5 linked regions of the Homo sapiens genome follow. The protein of the gene in region 5 purifies or fractionates together with the protein of the main gene of each other region. This does not show direct contact. Each region holds a gene or a part of one and is shown on either strand. Other genes may lie near its edges.

Evidence for each region.
Region 1: the proteins of MIX23 (region 5) and PAM16 purify together in Homo sapiens (affinity purification with mass spectrometry; one large-scale study listed by BioGRID and IntAct). This does not show direct contact.
Region 2: the proteins of MIX23 (region 5) and ALDH1L1 purify together in Homo sapiens (co-immunoprecipitation; one large-scale study listed by IntAct). This does not show direct contact.
Region 3: the proteins of MIX23 (region 5) and MTFMT purify together in Homo sapiens (affinity purification with mass spectrometry; one large-scale study listed by BioGRID and IntAct). This does not show direct contact.
Region 4: the proteins of MIX23 (region 5) and AFG3L2 purify together in Homo sapiens (affinity purification with mass spectrometry; one large-scale study listed by BioGRID and IntAct). This does not show direct contact.

What each region holds. Positions count from the first base shown.
Region 1 is NC_000016.10:4,344,812-4,348,333, forward strand, and holds part of PAM16 (mitochondrial import inner membrane translocase subunit TIM16), read right to left. Parts: intron 1-3,522. UniProt on the Homo sapiens protein: Regulates ATP-dependent protein translocation into the mitochondrial matrix. Inhibits DNAJC19 stimulation of HSPA9/Mortalin ATPase activity.
Region 2 is NC_000003.12:126,105,329-126,107,608, forward strand, and holds part of ALDH1L1 (cytosolic 10-formyltetrahydrofolate dehydrogenase), read right to left. Parts: exon of another isoform or gene 1,919-2,280; coding exon 1,813-1,918; exon of another isoform or gene 598-1,812; coding exon 398-597; exon of another isoform or gene 205-397; intron 1-204. UniProt on the Homo sapiens protein: Cytosolic 10-formyltetrahydrofolate dehydrogenase that catalyzes the NADP(+)-dependent conversion of 10-formyltetrahydrofolate to tetrahydrofolate and carbon dioxide.
Region 3 is NC_000015.10:65,005,618-65,009,139, reverse strand, and holds part of MTFMT (methionyl-tRNA formyltransferase, mitochondrial), read left to right. Parts: intron 1-2,948; coding exon 2,949-3,027; intron 3,028-3,522. UniProt on the Homo sapiens protein: Methionyl-tRNA formyltransferase that formylates methionyl-tRNA in mitochondria and is crucial for translation initiation.
Region 4 is NC_000018.10:12,367,206-12,370,727, forward strand, and holds part of AFG3L2 (mitochondrial inner membrane m-AAA protease component AFG3L2), read right to left. Parts: intron 178-3,522; coding exon 71-177; intron 1-70. UniProt on the Homo sapiens protein: Catalytic component of the m-AAA protease, a protease that plays a key role in proteostasis of inner mitochondrial membrane proteins, and which is essential for axonal and neuron development.
Region 5 is NC_000003.12:122,359,227-122,362,748, forward strand, and holds the end of MIX23 (protein MIX23), read right to left. Parts: intron 694-3,522; coding exon 643-693; 3' UTR 365-642; downstream 1-364.

The sequences.
Region 1 (3,522 bases), on a different chromosome or scaffold from region 5:
GGATTGTGTGAGAGGAGGGGGTTCTGTGAGAGGAGGGGGTTCCGTGAGAGGAGGGGGTTCCTCCTGGGCTGGGCTTTGCAGGGTAGGAAGAATCATGATGGAAATACTAGGGCTTTCTAGGCAGAGGGACTGGGTTGAGCCAAAACTGGCAGGAGAGAAGGCAGAAGGGAGTTCCTGCGAGCAGCCAATAGCCTAGGCTGGCCTGGGAAAGACTGGGAATCTGGCGGATGACATGGAAAGATGCACAGATCTTTGTGAAACAAAGCGATTATATATAGACAGCACATACAAAGGATCTTGTGACTGCAAAGCCGTAGACGCAGGGGGGTGGCGCGGGCTGGAGGCAGCTCGGCATAGGTTGAAAGCTCATGTGGCACAGCCGAGTGACTTTCCCTTTCTTCCTAGTGCTTTTCTGTAGATTTGCCTTCAGTCAACAAGTATCAACTGAGTCCACACACCAGGCACGGTGCCAAACACGTTCAATTCATTGTGCCGTTTAATTCTGACAACTCAGGGGTGGGGGACTGCTGACTGGCCCGAGGACGTAACAGCAGGTGCCTCGGAGGCAGATCGGAAACCCAAGGCTGGTGCTATCTGTCACAGCAGTCACTACGCAGGGTCCCGGGGTCTGAAGGTAGGGCACCTGGGCAAGCCGACAAGTATCAAGAACCCAACCCCGAGGCCAGAGGGGCTTGCTCCAGATTCCAGTGGATTCGACTCCAGAGCTGGCCTTGTTCAGCCTCCGAGGACCTGCTCTTTCCTTAACAGGTGGGATGTCATTATGGGCCATTAGGGGAATGAACAAACAAGTGGGTTAAGATTTCAAAAGTAGGTGGAAACTTCATAACTTCTGGATTTCACAGCAGAAAGAGCCCAGAGAAGACCCTCCTGTGATCACAGCGAGGGGCAGGGCTGTGGCTGTACTGCAGATGAGGGAGGGTCAGGGATGCACCTGATGACACCTGCGGTCTCACCTGACTTCGCCTCCTTCCTAAAGCCCCTCCCGAGTGGAACAGGAGGCTCAGGGATGGGATGCTGGTGCTGTCTGAAGGACAGAGGTGAAAGTCAGAGGGTCCCCTCGGCTTGAAACACGGCTCAGGTCTCAGACTACCCCTCACACCAACAGCCTTCGGTCCCTCTGCTGCCATCGTACAGCCTTGCAATCACTTGTTTACTTTTCTGCCAAGGCCAATGACTGTTGCAAAATAATGAACGGTAAGAGCTGAGGTCATAACTGGGGAGCTTCCCCGACCATCCCCTGCACACTTCAAACCAAAGCGGCGTGGTGGCCTGTGGCTTCAGCTGCCTAGAGCTGCAGGGCAGAGGGGGGCTGGCCTGCAAAGTTTCAGCAGACTGGACGGCCCATTGAGGCCAGCAAGGTTCCTATAGGAGGCATCTCTGAGAAGACGCAGTGTAGTGTAATGGTTACACCTGCAGGCTTTGGGATCACCTGTGTGCAAAAATCCCAGCTATCTGACATAGACACGTTCTCAACTCCTTTGAGCAACCCAGTTTGCTTACCTGTAAAATGTGGCCACCAATAAAGCTGAGATAATGCCTGTCAAATGCCTGGCACACAGCCTAATGGTACAGCAGGTGCTCAATAAACATTGGTTTTCATTCATTACTACTGTTTCACAAAATCTGACAATGACCAGGCACTATGAAGTAACAAAGCTTCTTTCAAAATAGCAGCTCATTTGATACAGGCCCTTTGCTTCCTCAGGGGTGAAGGCTGCAAAACACCATACTACATTCCCTCAGGGAGCTGGGAAGCAGCAAGGAAGCAGAACGAGAACCACGTTGACCTGGGACCAGAACCCTAGCTTTCTTTCTCAATAGCTGTGTGACCCTGGACAAATTACTCAACCTCTCTGAATCTTTTTTTGTTTTGGTTTGGGTCTTTTATTTTTTATTTATTTTTTTGAGACTGACTCTCGCTCTGTCACCCAGGCTAGAGTGCAGTGGTTCAATCTCGGCTCATTGCAACCTCCACCTCACCAGTTCAAACGATCCTCCTGCCTCACCCTCCCAAGTAACTGGGATTACAGGTGAACACAACCAAGCCTAGCTAATTTTGTATTTTTAATAGAGACGAGGTTTCACCATGTTGGTCAGGCTGGTCTCAAACTCCTGACCTCAGGTGATCCACCCGCCTCGGCCTCCCAAAGTGCTGGGATTACAGGCATGAGACACCACACCTGGCCTTTTTTTTGGAAGCAGAGTCTAACTCTGTCGTCCAGGCTGGAGTGCAGTGGTGCAATCATGGCTCACTTGCAGCCTCAGCCTCCCAGCCTCAAGAGATTCTCCTGCTTAAGCCTCCCGAGTAGCTGGAGCTACTTGTACTCAGCCTCCGAGGACCTGCTCTTTCCTTAACAGGCGGGATGTGATATGGGCCATTAGGGGAATGAACAAACACAAGTGGGTTAGGATTTCACAAGTAGGTGGAAATTTCATAACTTCTGGAGGCTGAGCACACGCCACCACATTTGGCTAAATGTACTTTTCTGGAGAGATGGGGTTTCGCCATGTTGCCCAGGCTGGTCTTGAACTCCTAGGTTCGCATGAACTGCCCTCCTCGGCTTCCCAAAGTGCTAGGATTACAGGTGTGAGCTACTGTGCCCAGCCTACCTCAGTTTTCTTAACTGCAAGATGGAGAGAATAACACCCTCCTCACAAGAGGACAGTAAGGCCCTCAGGAGGCAATGCCCATTAACACCACATGGACAAACAGCGGCAGGTCCAGAACTAGGCGGTGCAGGCAAGCCCCTCATCCACCTATCCAGTACCCCAACATCCCCTGAGCTTCTGCCATGGGTCAGGCTGAGTTCAGAGCTCATTCACAGGGAGCAGAGCTCTGCCAGCTGTGGCTACCATGGGTGACCAAAACAACCACTGCCTGAGGCCCCTCCCAGAGGCTCCAAACATCCCATAGTCCACCGACTGACACTTGGGCCTGAGGGTCCCAGGTGAGAGGACCCAGCTGACTTGGCATCCAACTTCAGGCCACGCGGCTGTCAGAGAGCAGCAGTCAGAAGCACAGGATCCAATCCTGGCATGCGTGGGGGCAGCATGTGCACTTCGTTGTTGGGCAGCAACCTGGCCCAAGGCAGGACCAGATCCCAGCAGCTGGGACCACAGACAGTGCTGTGGGAGGCACTCAGCAATGGGGCTTACACTGACTTGTGTCTTTGAGATTCGCGTGCAATGCGCCTTTGAGGCCAAGCCCCAGGCTCTGGGTAGATAAGCAGACAGCCTGAGACTCACTCTCAAGGACACTCTGGTCACCCAGGGCCCCTGAGAATAGATACGGGCATCACAACTAGACAGGAGAAAGGTCAGGACCACAACTGTAGCACGTGCCACAACATCAGGGACCTGGCCAGTGGCTGGCGCAGTAAGTGCCCCTGGTGCATCTGAATGAATATGGCTGTTGCAGCTTTGCCCAATCTGCTGTCTCATGAACTCCATGTCCCCAGGCAGGGTTTCCAAGCGCCTCCTAACCCTTCTGCGGGAGGGTTC
Region 2 (2,280 bases), 3.7 Mb from region 5:
CCTCTCTGCAGCTCCACGACCAAAGCTGGTTCCCCCAAGGACCTGCTGAACCCTCAGCCAGAAACACGGGCCCCTGGGTCTTCATGGCCAACTCCTCCCTGCTATGCAGGTCTGGGTAGCACAGGTGCCACCACACCAGAGAGGCCCCCAGTGCCTCCTGGCTGGAGTGTCTCCTCCAGGCCCCTCTTCTTGCCTTCTTCCCAGCACGACCCCCCTCTGCAAGCATCTTGCTCACGGACTTGTCACAAGTTCCCTCCCAGTAAGAAGCGAACCCTGACAGCCATCATGTTCAAGGCTACGTCCCTGCATCTGAGATAGGACCTGGCCCTAAGTGGTTTTGAACAGATGTTTGTTGAATGAATAAATGAAAGCAACCCCACAGGCAGGAGTAGGTTACCTAGATCTTTGCCAAATCCAGACTGTTTGAATCCTCCGAAGGGAGCGGCCACGTCGGTCTTGTTGTACGTGTTGACAAACACAGTGCCTGCCTGGAGCTTGTCACTGACATACAGGGCCTTGTTGATGTCCCTGGTGAAGACACCAGAAGCCAGGCCAAATTCCGTGGCATTGGCCCGAGACAGCACGGCATCCAAGTCCCTGGAGAGAAAGTCCAGGAAGAACTCCCTGAGGGAGGTGCAGAGGAGAGCCTGGCCCACTCCACACCCCGGCCCACTCCACACCCCAGCTGCATAAGACCTTCCGAGGAGAAAATGTGCCGGGCTGCAGCGCCGGGGGCAAGATTGGGTTGGGTTGGGCTGCGAGCGAGGAGGAAGGGCAGAGGCCCATGGGCAGGTGGCCACCACAGGGGCTCCTGGATCATCGGGTGAGCCCTTTATTCCACAGACTGGGAGCAGGGGCCCAGAGAGGGGCCGCTGGGTCCTCACATGCAGAAGGACCCACATGTGCCCGCCGCAGGTTGGGCATTCACCAGACATCAGCGATTTGGAGACTTACTACAACCATATTTATTGGCTAGGTGGCAGTGAAGTCTCTTATTCTAATACCACTGACATACGATGATAATTTCTGGGGTTTTTTTGGTAGTTGGATAGTAAAATGTGAGGACGAGGCACGATTTTGCAATTTGCTCCAAGGTGCTACGGAGACAAGGGGCAGGCCTGAGAAGTGACAGCATGGGCCTCAGTGGCCCCACTGTGAGTGGAGTACAGTTTTTCCCTTCCAGCCCAGCCTGGTCTGGGTGACTTGCTTCATCAACAGGCCGTGGTGGAAGGGATGCTCTGGGATTCTAAAGAGCTAGATTATAAAGAGCCTTTTGGCTTCCACCTGGCCTCCGAAGGGAACCAGGTGCCTCGGCAACCCCGAGGCTGCCACGCGGAGGAAGCCTCCCGCAAGACCCCCAGCAGCATCAGGATAGCCACTCTGTCACCCCAGCTGAGGCCAGACACTGCATGGAGCAGAGATGGGTTTGCCTCATTGAACCTAGACCGTGACTAAAATAAATCTCTGATTATTCCAAGCCACTCAGTGTGGGGGGTGGTTTAATGCATGGTAACAGACCTTAGAACAGAGCCCAGCGGGCTGTGAGAAACATGCTGGAGCATGTGACAAGTGACAAGGACAGGGAAGGGAGCTGCCTTTGCTCACAGGGGGGACTCAAAGCCCCAGGTCACTGGGCTCTCTTCTCAGGGGTGTGGAGACTCAGCAGGCGGCACAAGCGGGGTGTCCACGGCTTGCGCCCTGCCTGAGTTCTCCTCCTGACTGCCCGTAGACTACCTCCCAAAGCCCACATGAAGACCCCAGTAACACGTGGGAGAGAGTCAGGGCCCTTGAGACATCAGCAGGATTCCCTACCCATCAGCAAACCGAGAGATGATCATGACAGGCCCGAAGGACTCCTCCTTGGCTATGAACATGTGGTCTTCCACGTCTGTGAAAACAGTTGGCTCAAAGAAGAACCCTGCAAGAGAGATAAAAGCCCGTTGCACATGGGAGACACGGTGCCCGATGGTCCAGCCTCTCCGTCAGCAGGGCCTGGGCCACACCAGCCACCTGCGGATGACCCGACATAAGCACCGGGTCACGGCACCCGTGTGATGGGTGTCACCACGCTGCAGATGGCTCTCCCACCTGGCTTGTTCTTTGATGTGGGTCTCACCGTGCTTTTAACGGAGTGCTGTTGAGGGAAATGGGGCCGCCGGTTGGCAGGTGACAGAGCTGAGACCTGATCCCAAGTCCATCCAATCCTAGTGCCAGAACCCATGGCCGAAGCAAAGACTTGAGCTTTTCTGGTGACAGCTAATCTAAAACCACCTAGATTCT
Region 3 (3,522 bases), on a different chromosome or scaffold from region 5:
AAGGCCCTTGTCTTTGAGCTTCTGCTTTTTTTACCTCTAAAGTGGGATTAATGACCATGTACACAACTGGCAAGATCAAAGGAAATGAACTAGGTGAATGTAAATTCATGCAAACATACTATTTTGGCAGTAATGATGGCAGACACCAAAATGATTATATTCTTACCATCCCTTTCCTTTCTACAATGCTCTGATGATAAGGTGAGCTTTACCTCCCGAAGAACAAGACTATATTCTGAGTATGTACCTAGCATGTTTATTACTCTCAGTAAATAGAAATCTTTTTTAGTCAGTAAGCATGTTTCAAAAATATTTTGAGTTATTTAAAAGAAAAAAATTGCACATATGAAAATCGTTTCAGAACTTTTATTGAAGCGGGCAAAAGAAAAGTGAGCTAGCAAGTTATAGAAGAGGCTATGACATAGATACAGTTATGAACTTGTTCTTCAAATTCATTTACTTATTTGATTTAATGTTCAAATTATTACAACAACCTAACTCTTCTGAAAGTTAAATACCCTCTTTAAGGGGTGTCATAAAAAGAGCACTGCACTGAGAATCAGAAAACAGAAGCCAGTCCTGGCTTTGCTACTAACTAGCTGGGTCCAACCTTGGGAAAATAGCTGCATTTCTCTGAGCCTCACTCTCTTCATGTATGAAATAGAGGATTGAACTACAGTCTGGAAATAAATGCATTCAATTCAGAAATTTTAGAGAACTTATTTCCTGGTGTGTGTTAAATTTTATTAACATTTAAATCAGGCTGTAGGATCTCAGGTATGTTGGAAATGTGTTACATGATAAAGGTGGTATTTCATACTGGAGGGAAGGGTAAGATGGATTATCTAGTAAATAGTATTGGGATAACTGGCCAACCATTGGTGGGGGAAGCCCTCAAATCCTATCTTTTAAAATCATAGTAAGTGCTATATTATAACAATGCATATGTAGTTAACAATACTGTATGGTATACTTACAATTTGTTAATTGAGCACATTTTTCTTATGTGTTTTTTACCATAATAAAAAAATCAAAATATAGATGGATCAAGGATTTAAATATAAAAAGTAAAATCACAAGGACTATAAAAAAGCACAACTGAATAATTTGACAATATTTAATAATCTTAAAGTGTGGGGTAGGCCTTTTTAAGTATGATACGAACCACCAAAGTAATGAGAGAAAAGACTTAGAAATATAATTATGAAAATAAAAAACTTATGCATGGAAAAAATGGCTGTCCCCAAGATTAAAAGTCAACAAACTGAGGAAAATATTCACAACACATGTAAGAGTTAAAAGGCTAATTTCCTAAATATAGAAAATATTTTTGCAAATTAATGAGATAACCATCCCAGTTTTAAAAAATATAACCAAAGGGCATAAATAGGCAGGTTACAGATAAATAAATTAAAAGTGCACATAAATATATGGACAGCTTCTCAGCTTCGCTAATAATAAACAGCAAGAGATTATCATATTTTTTTCTCACTTATCCAGGCAGTTTAGCAATAAAATGTTGATGCTGTTTAACCCACGCATTCCACTTTAAAAACAAAAAACCCCAAAACTATTATCCAGAAATGTGTAAGCCCTCAAAGATATATCGACAAGGTTATTACCCTAGTTTATAGTGTTATAAATAGCAATAAATTGAAAATAACAAATATCTATCATAAAGGTAGTTGCATAAATTACATATTCATAAAATGGGTTACTGTGCAGCAGATAGAGTGAAATTGATAAGTATGTACTGATGAAACATCAATGCTTTATGGTCACATAACAAAAGTCCTTGTAAAACAGTATTGATGCAGGACTTTTTGCTCCTTAACTCAGCTAAAATCTGGGTTCTTGTCTCACAACCAGGAAAAATTAGGCACGTGGACACATTGAAAGGTGAGGAGAGTGGAATTTATTAAAAGAAAGCTCTCAGCAAAAAAAGAGGGGGTCCTGCCAACAGGCTCCCACCTCACAGATTGAATACCAGGCCACCACACAGGAGCTGAAGAGGCCAGGCTCTTCCCCTGCATAAGGCAGAAATTCCTGGTGGCTCCACCCCCATTCTTCCAGTGCTCATGCGGGCCCTTAGTCTGAGCCACGCCACCTTGATTTATTTCCTTTACTGTGCATGTGTTAAGGGACAGAACTTTTCACCATGGACATGTTGAGTCAAGCCCACTGTGCATAATGACCTGGGTGGCATTTGGCTGTCTCCTGTCTCTATCACTGTGTTCTAGATTTTTATAATAATATTTGTAGAAAAAAATACAGGGAAATGCACATCAAACTTAACAGTCGTTACCTATAGGGATGGGAATAAATACAGAATATCACTTTCTAAAATTTTTTAACATAATGTAATGCTTGCATTTTTTATAAGGATAATAAATTTTTAATTGGAAATATTAGTATATTAGATATAAACATTGATTTTAAAGTAACATTTAAGATCTTATAAATCGGCCGGGCGCGGTGGCTCACGCCTGTAATCCCAGCACTTTGGGAGGCTAAGGCGGGCGGATCATGAGGTCAGGAGATAGAGACCATCGTGGCTAACATGGTGAAACCCCGTCTCTACTTAAAATACAAAAAATTAGCCGGGCATGGTTGCAGGCGCCTGTAGTCCCAGCTACTCGGGAGGCTGAAGCAGGAGAATGGCGTGAACCCGGGAGGCGGAGCTTGCAGTGAGCCAAGATCGCGCCACTGCACTCCAGCCTGGTGACACAACGAGACTCCGTCTCAAAAAAAAAAAAAAAAAGATCTTATAAATCCTGGAAACACTGATGTAGAGAGTCATGTTTACGGTCTGTTCCATCAAACTTAGTGACTGAGTTCCCAATTCCTCTAATTGAAAGAAAAGTCCAGATTAACACAAAATAGTAGTTGAAAAGGGTTTGGGAGTTGAGTGTATTCCTTTATCATACCTTCTTTAATTTTACTTGCAGATTCCGTTGCAGACGCTCTGGATGGCGAATACCATTAAACTTCTGGATTTGGTAGAAGTTAACAGTTCAGTCCTTGCTGGTACTAACTTTTGAATAGCTAACATGGAAGCTGTTTTCACTGTAGTGTATCTGGAAATACGTCTGTTTTATCATATGTCACAATTACTAAAAATAACTTTTAGTTTGTTTCAGTTCAGTAATTATAATACTTTACATTCACTTATTGTCTTATTCTTTGCAACACTCATTCTCATATATTTTCTCATTTAATCATTACAAGAACAGGCCAGGCGCGGTGGCTCACGCCTGTAATTCCAGCACTTTGGGAGGCCAAGGTGGGTGGATCAGCTGAGGTCAGGAGTTCGAGACTAGCCTGACTGACATGGTGAAGCCCCGTCTCTACTAAATACAAAAATTTAGCTGGGCATGGTGGCACATGCCTGTAATCCCAGCTACTTGGGAGGCTGAGGCAGGAGAGTCACTTGAACCTGGGAGGCAGAGGTTTCAGTGAGCCAAGATTGCGCCGCTGCACTCCAGCCTGGGCAATGAGTGAAACTCCATTTCAAAAAAAAAA
Region 4 (3,522 bases), on a different chromosome or scaffold from region 5:
ACTAATGCCTCCCAACCTTCTCTGGGCCACCATCATAACCTCAAAATTCACACAATGTATAGCATCAAACCTTCTGAAACCTGGACCACCAGTGAGAATCATCTTTCTTGCCACCTCGTTTTCCACCGCCACCACCTCCTCCTCCAGAAGAGCGTGTGGTAGCAGCTGGCTTTGATTCTGTTCATAAACAAAGAGCACACACAGAAGCACGGCAAGGTTTTAGCTCTCTCAGCAATGTCTTCATGTATACGGTTTAATAAAAGACTCATTGCAGAATACACTGTGGCAACTGATCAGTTACTAAGTGAAGCACTATGAGAAAGAATACAAATACAAAGCTTACCAATCAGGGAGGCTCCCAAGGGCTATACTTGCATCATCTCATGAAATATGCACAATAACCCAATAACCCAAGAAATTATAGGACTGTTATACCCTTCACAGAGGGAGAAAGTATAGCTTAAGTAACTTGTTGGATGGGTGGCAGTGTTAGGGGACAGTGAATAAGTCACAGAGTTGGGATGCAAATTCCTCAGTCCCCACTCAAAGTTTAAAGTGTGTTCTGGCCACGCACGGTGGCTCATGCCTGTAATACCAGAATTTCGGGGGGCCAAAGCAGGAGAATCCCTTGAGCCCAGGAGTTCAAGACCAGACTGAGCAACAAAGCAAGACCCTGCCTCTGGCCGGGCGCGGTGGTTCACGCCTGTAATCCCAGCACTTTGGGAGGCCAAGGTGGGCGATCACCTGAGGTCGGGAGTTTGAGACCAGCCTGTTCAACATGGAGAAACCCTGTCTCTACTAAAAATACAAAATTAGCTGGGCATGGTGGCGCATGCCTGTAATCCCAGCTACTAGGGAGGCTGAGGCAGGAGAATCGCTTCAACCTGGGAGGCGGAAGTTGTGGTGAGCCAAGATCACGCCATTGCACTCCAGCCTGGGCAACAAGCGTGAAACTCCGTCTCAAAAAAAAATAAAAAATAAAAAATAAAAAAATAAAATAAAAATTAGCCAGGCATCGTAGTGTGCACCTGTGGTCCCAGCTACACAGGAGGCTGAGGCAGGAGAATCGCTTGAGTCCTAGAGTTTGAGCCTGTAGTGAGCTGTGATTGTACCACTGCACTCCAGCCTGGGCAACAGGAAGACCTTATCTCAAAAACAACAGCAACAACAAAACAAAACAAAAGTAAGTACTCCCTTTCCCACTCCCACAAAGTATACATTGTTAACACTTTCTTGTGCAGGAAAGCCCATGGTTTTGACAAATGGCTAAAAAAACACACCCACAGTTGGTATTCAGCTGGCATCTTTGCTTTGTAGGGAAATGTATGTAAGGAAAACTGTAAATCAGTCCTTGTTGTTGTTTTAGACGGAGTTTCACTCTGTCTCCCAGAGTGGAGTACAATGGCGTGATCTCAGCTCACTGCAACCTCTGCCTCCCAGGCTGGAGTACAATGGCGTGATCTCAGCTCACTGCAACCTCTGCCTTCCAGGTTCAAGCGATTCTCATGCCTCAGCCTCCCAAGTAGTTGGGATTACAGGAGCACGCCACCATGCCCGGCTAATTTTTGTATTTTTAGTAGAGATAGGGTTTCATCATGTTGGCCAGGCTGGTCTTCAACTCCTGACCTCAGCTGATGCACCCGTTTCGGCCTCCCAAAGTGCTGGGATTACAGGCGTTGAGCCACCGCACCCGGACCGAATACACTTCTAATGTCTTCAGTGACCATGAAGCAACCCCTCTAGTGTAGCAGGATGGGAGGCTACAGGCACCCGGTCATCCTCAGTGGCTATGTAACATGTGGCTTCATGACACATTCACTCCGCTATGCTGCATACGAGGGGCTTCTGCACCTCTGTCTCGAGTGGAGTCTGAGACAGGTATGATATGCACAAGCCTCAGCCCCCAGAATGAGGCCCAGGACTAAAAAACACGCAGTAAGCACACCACTAAAGCTGTGCAACACTCCAAACCACTCAGGGAGAAAGGAATGTCCACACAAAAGCAACCCAAAAGCTTGCATGGGTTATCATTACTCGGCCCCCACACCAAGACTCAAAGACCACCTAGCATGCACTGGGAGAACTGTAGGTACTGCTCCAATCTAGAGCCCCGGGGCTGTCACCAGCCCACACCAGTGCTTCTCCCTCCCCATGTCCCCTGGCTCTTACTCCTTTGCATTCTTTGGGCATATATTTGTCTGTCCAACTAGATGACAAGTACATTTAAAAACGTGGACTCCTCGAGGCCAGGTGCAGTGGTCACGCCTGTAATCCTAGCACTTTGGGAGGCAGAGGCGGGTGGATCACATGAGGTCAGGAGTTCAAGACCAGCTTGGCCAACATGGTGAAACCTCATCTCTTAAAAATTAGCTAGGCATGGTGGCGCATGCCTATAATCCCAGCTACTGTGGAGGCTGAGGCAGGAGAATCACCTGAACCCAAGAGGCAGAGGTTGCAGTGAGATCGTGCCACTGCACTCCAGCCTGGGCGACAGAGACCCCTCCTCAAAAAAAAAAAAAAAGAAACTGAATTACAGTTTTCTTTACATTTCCCTAAAAAAGCAAGGATGGGCCGGGCATGGTGGCTCACGCCTGTAATCCCAGCACTTTGGGAGGCCGAGGCAGGCGGATCACAAGGTCAGGAGATGGAGACCATCCTGGCTAACACAGCGAAACCCCGTCTCTACTAAAAATACAAAAAAAAAAAAATTAGCCAGGCGTGCGCCTTTAGTCCCAGCTACTCAGGAGGCTGAGGCAGGAGAATGGTGCGAACCCAAGAGGCGGAGCTTGCAGTGAGCCAAGATCATGCCACTGCACTCCAGCCTGGACGACAGAGCTAGACTCTGTCTCAAAAAAAAAAAAAAAAAAAAAAAAGCAAGGAAGTCAGTCAAAATGGGCACAGGAGGCCCACTCAGTCCCCCAGCCACCGTGCTCTAAAAAAGTCTCTCCGAATCCCTAAGGTGAGGTAATGCTCTGAGGAGCAATTTTTAAAACACTGCCCTAAACACAATATGTATCAAATAAATTGCATGTATTAGATTTCTACGATTTTTCTCAATGTTTTAAATTATGTGCCAGATATCTACCAAATATGCTTAGTTTGACCAGACAATACCTCTAAGGTAGCCTTAAATTACTTCAATTTGCAAAATGACAGAAAAATATCAACAGAAAATTAAGGTGAAATGTAACATAAGGTCTCTAGAATTTTATATGTACTTGCAACCTACAGCTTCACAACTGACTTACTATAACTTTCTTTTTTTTTTTTTTTTCTTTTTTTTTTGAGACAGGGTCTCTCTGTTGCCCAGGCTGGAGTGCAGTGGCACAATCACAGCTCCCTGCTGGGCTCAGGTGATTCTCCCACCTCAGCCTCCCAGGTAGCTGGGACTACAGGTGTGCACCACCATGTCTAACTAATTTTTTGTATTTTTAGTAGGGACAGAGTTTCACCACATTGCCCAGGCTGGTCTCAACCTCCTGGGCTCAAGTGATCCACCCGCCTAGGCCTCCCAAAAGGCTG
Region 5 (3,522 bases):
GAAATACTGTCCAGGAAAGAATTCCACCAAAAATTAGTTTTTATATCTGAAAATAAGATCAGTTAAGGTACTAAAAGAAAACTTCTTTGGGCATTGTCCAGCTTATAATACTGCCCTTTTATAATCAACCCACAAAGATAAATCAAGGAATAAACTTATCAATAACCAAAAAGGTCCACATCCATGCCAATAAATTTATAAAAATTAAAAAATACACTACAAATCAGATATTGAAAGTGCATGCAAATTATCTTATGAGAACTGTCTTGCAACCTGACAGGATATTAAAAAAATAGAAACTAAAAATTCAATAAATAAATAAAAAGAGAACTGTCTCAACATAGAAAACAATCAAATAAATATGTACACTGAGTCAGAAAATTATTTTAATAGTTACAAAAATTTTTTTTTTTTTTTTTTACAGAATCAGTATAAAATAGCAGTTGATTTCTCCATAATTATCAGAATTATTTATACTTGAGGTCTTGGCTAAGTGGGGCTGAAATCAACAAAAGGTCTTGGACTGTTGGCTCAGAAATCATCCTAGAAAGCCCGCCCTGTTGATATCTGTCATGCTTAGCTCTTATGAGATGACCCAGTCCTTAAAAAAAAAAAAAAAAAAAAAAAAAAAAGAATCTCTCTTTATTCATTCTTTGGAGGCTTGAAGTGAATTCGGCAGCGTTCATTAAACACCTAAAATATTGAAACAGAAACAAAAGTCATTGAGTTATCCTGCGTAAATCAGGCCTGGAACTAAATTCAATTTAGTAGGCTCCAAAAGGCTATTACCATTTTTGTCCTAAGTCAACAGATTTAGGAAACAGAAGAGTTTCCTCAGCAGTTCAAACTGACTTATGAGGTGCCAAATGCACAGAAGGCCTTGACATCCATTTACAAGACAATTCTAGTATTTTAATAAAATTTAAGTTACTTCGGGAAAAAATCATCAAGAGCCAGGTAATTTAGTTACTAGCAAACATTTCAATTTCATATTCTGGACATTTTTTAAACAACAACACAAAAATATCTAAAATAAGTTAAATAAAGAATGCTCAATAACTAAATGTCCACATGGAACTGTGTTAAATAAAAATTTGGTATGGTTATTCAATGGAATACATGCAAGGTTAAAAATAATTTATGTTCTGATTTAAAAAGATCTCCAAGATTATCAAGGGAAAAAAAAGTGTGAATAGTACAGTTTCACTTGTGTAACAAAGGTAGAAAAATACACACACACATAAAATTAGAAAAGGTTTGAGTATCTGAAAGCATATACCATCTTTCAGAGGGAAGGGAAAGTAGGAGGTAGCTGAAGGAGAGGGACAGAAGGCAGAATTTTTACTGTATATTACTATTTTTAAAATTTTTAAAACATTTTTAATATTAAAAAAATTTAAATCATGTCAAAAATTTTAAGTGTCCAATTATAACAATTCTGAAATTGAAAAGAATTTTTTCTCAGAATTTACCCCCATACATCATTAATGTAAAGAACAAATCACTTTTTAGGTTAAAAAAAAACAAACTACCTATGTTGGCTGCCATTGACTATTATAAAAATAAAAGAAAAATCTAAACACAGAGGTTGTGAGGTACTGTTACTCTATTTCTTTTTATTTATTTATTTTTTTGAGACGGAGTTTCGCTCTTGTCGCCCAGGCTGGAGTGCAATGGCGTGATCTCGGCTCACTGAAACCTCCACCTCCTGGGTTCAAGCAATTCTCCCGCCTCAGCCTCCCGAGTAGCTGGGACTACAGGCACCCGCCACCATGCCCAGCTAATTTTTTGTATTTTTAGTAGAGACGGGGTTTCACCCTGTTGGTCAGGCTGGTATCGAACTCCTGACCTCAAGAGACCCACTCACCTCGGCCTCCCAAAGTGCTGGGATTACAGGCGTGAGCCAGTAAAGTGCTGCGCCTGACCTATTATTCAATTTCTTAAGCTGAGTGGTAGATACATGAATATTCATTTTATTAATATTCATTAAATTCTACATGTCACATAATCTTTCGCATATGCATCTCACAATTAATAGAAAATATGTAGAAATTATATAGACTCTGTCTAGCCCTTTTGTCTTACAATTCATCTCACCCATTTCCAGCCCTGACATTTCCCTGAAATTCCCAATCAGACAAGAGGGAGGCTTCAGTTTAGTGGCCTTGACACACTGGTTGGGGTGATATATACAACTTGGCTGAGCTTCTCCAAATCCTTTTCCCAAATGATTTCCTATCCACTTCTGCTGGCCCACTGCACCAGAGCACCATGGCTACATTTTCTTCTTTTTAAAACAAGTAGGGGCCTCATCTTCTGTGGAGTGGATAGAACATATTTTCTTTAAAACTAATATTAAATTCAAAATAGTTCACTCTTCCCACTACATTTTACATATATCATAAACTTCTGCACTTGTTTTTTCAAGCCAGATGTTTCATTGTACCCCTTCCCCATCCAATCCCAAGAGTAAATATTATTTTTCCAGAGAATATAAATGGGAAATATTGCCAAATCCTCTCAAGTGACAGACACCTTATCATGTTGGTGGAAAGGGCAGGAATAGGAAACCTTGGCAAAGAGGATAAGATAGAGAAATGTGATAAAGCAAAGAAAGCCAATTTGTATTTTGCAATGTGTTCATGTCTCAGCAAGCCGGTACATTCTGGTTTTGGTTCAGCTAACCTCTCTTATAAGCATATAGTTTAACAACATTCCAGTAGTTAAATTCAAATGATAAAACAGAATTTTCAGTACATTTTCTCAGATTTAATAGATTTTTGCCCTTCGTAAATCTTTTAGAGTTTTAGAGAGGGGTAAATGGATATACTTTTTCAGAAAACTAAAGTCAGAGTTTCATGAATTTTGACTATATGTTTCTGGGATCTGGTCCCCTAATCTAGTTCCTAACAAGAACTATGCAATGATAATAAGGAGCTTGTAAATCTATGAGCAATAAAAAGCCTTATCAGATACCAGTAAAACTACATATAATAACAAGTTTTATGATCAGGTAAGTTAGAAGACAAGCAACCGTATAGGTTACCTAATGATAGGAAAACTTACGGAAAGTAACTGAGCTCAAAAAGGCTAATTTGAACAAATAGCCTCCTTGAAGGTTCTGAGTAGTAACTCTAAATAGCAACCATGCCTGTAATTAGTGTTAGGAGACATAGAGAATGTCTCTAATGCTGTTATGATGGCAGCTCATTCAGTTCTATCATATGCTTATAAAGCTAATTTTGTTTTGTTTTGTTTTGGTTTTTTTTTTTGGAGATGGAGTCTCATTCTGTTGCCCAGGCTGGAGTGCAATGGCTTGATCTCAGCTCACTCCAACCTCTGCCTCCTGGGTTCGAGCGATTCTCCTGCCTCAGCCTCCCGAGTAGCTGGGATTACAGGCTCATGCCACCACGCTAATTTTTGTATTTTTAGTAGACACCTGACTTCAGGTGACCCACCCACCTTGGCCTCCCAAAGTGTTGGGATTACAGGTGTGAGCCACCTCGCCTGGCCCTGTAAAGC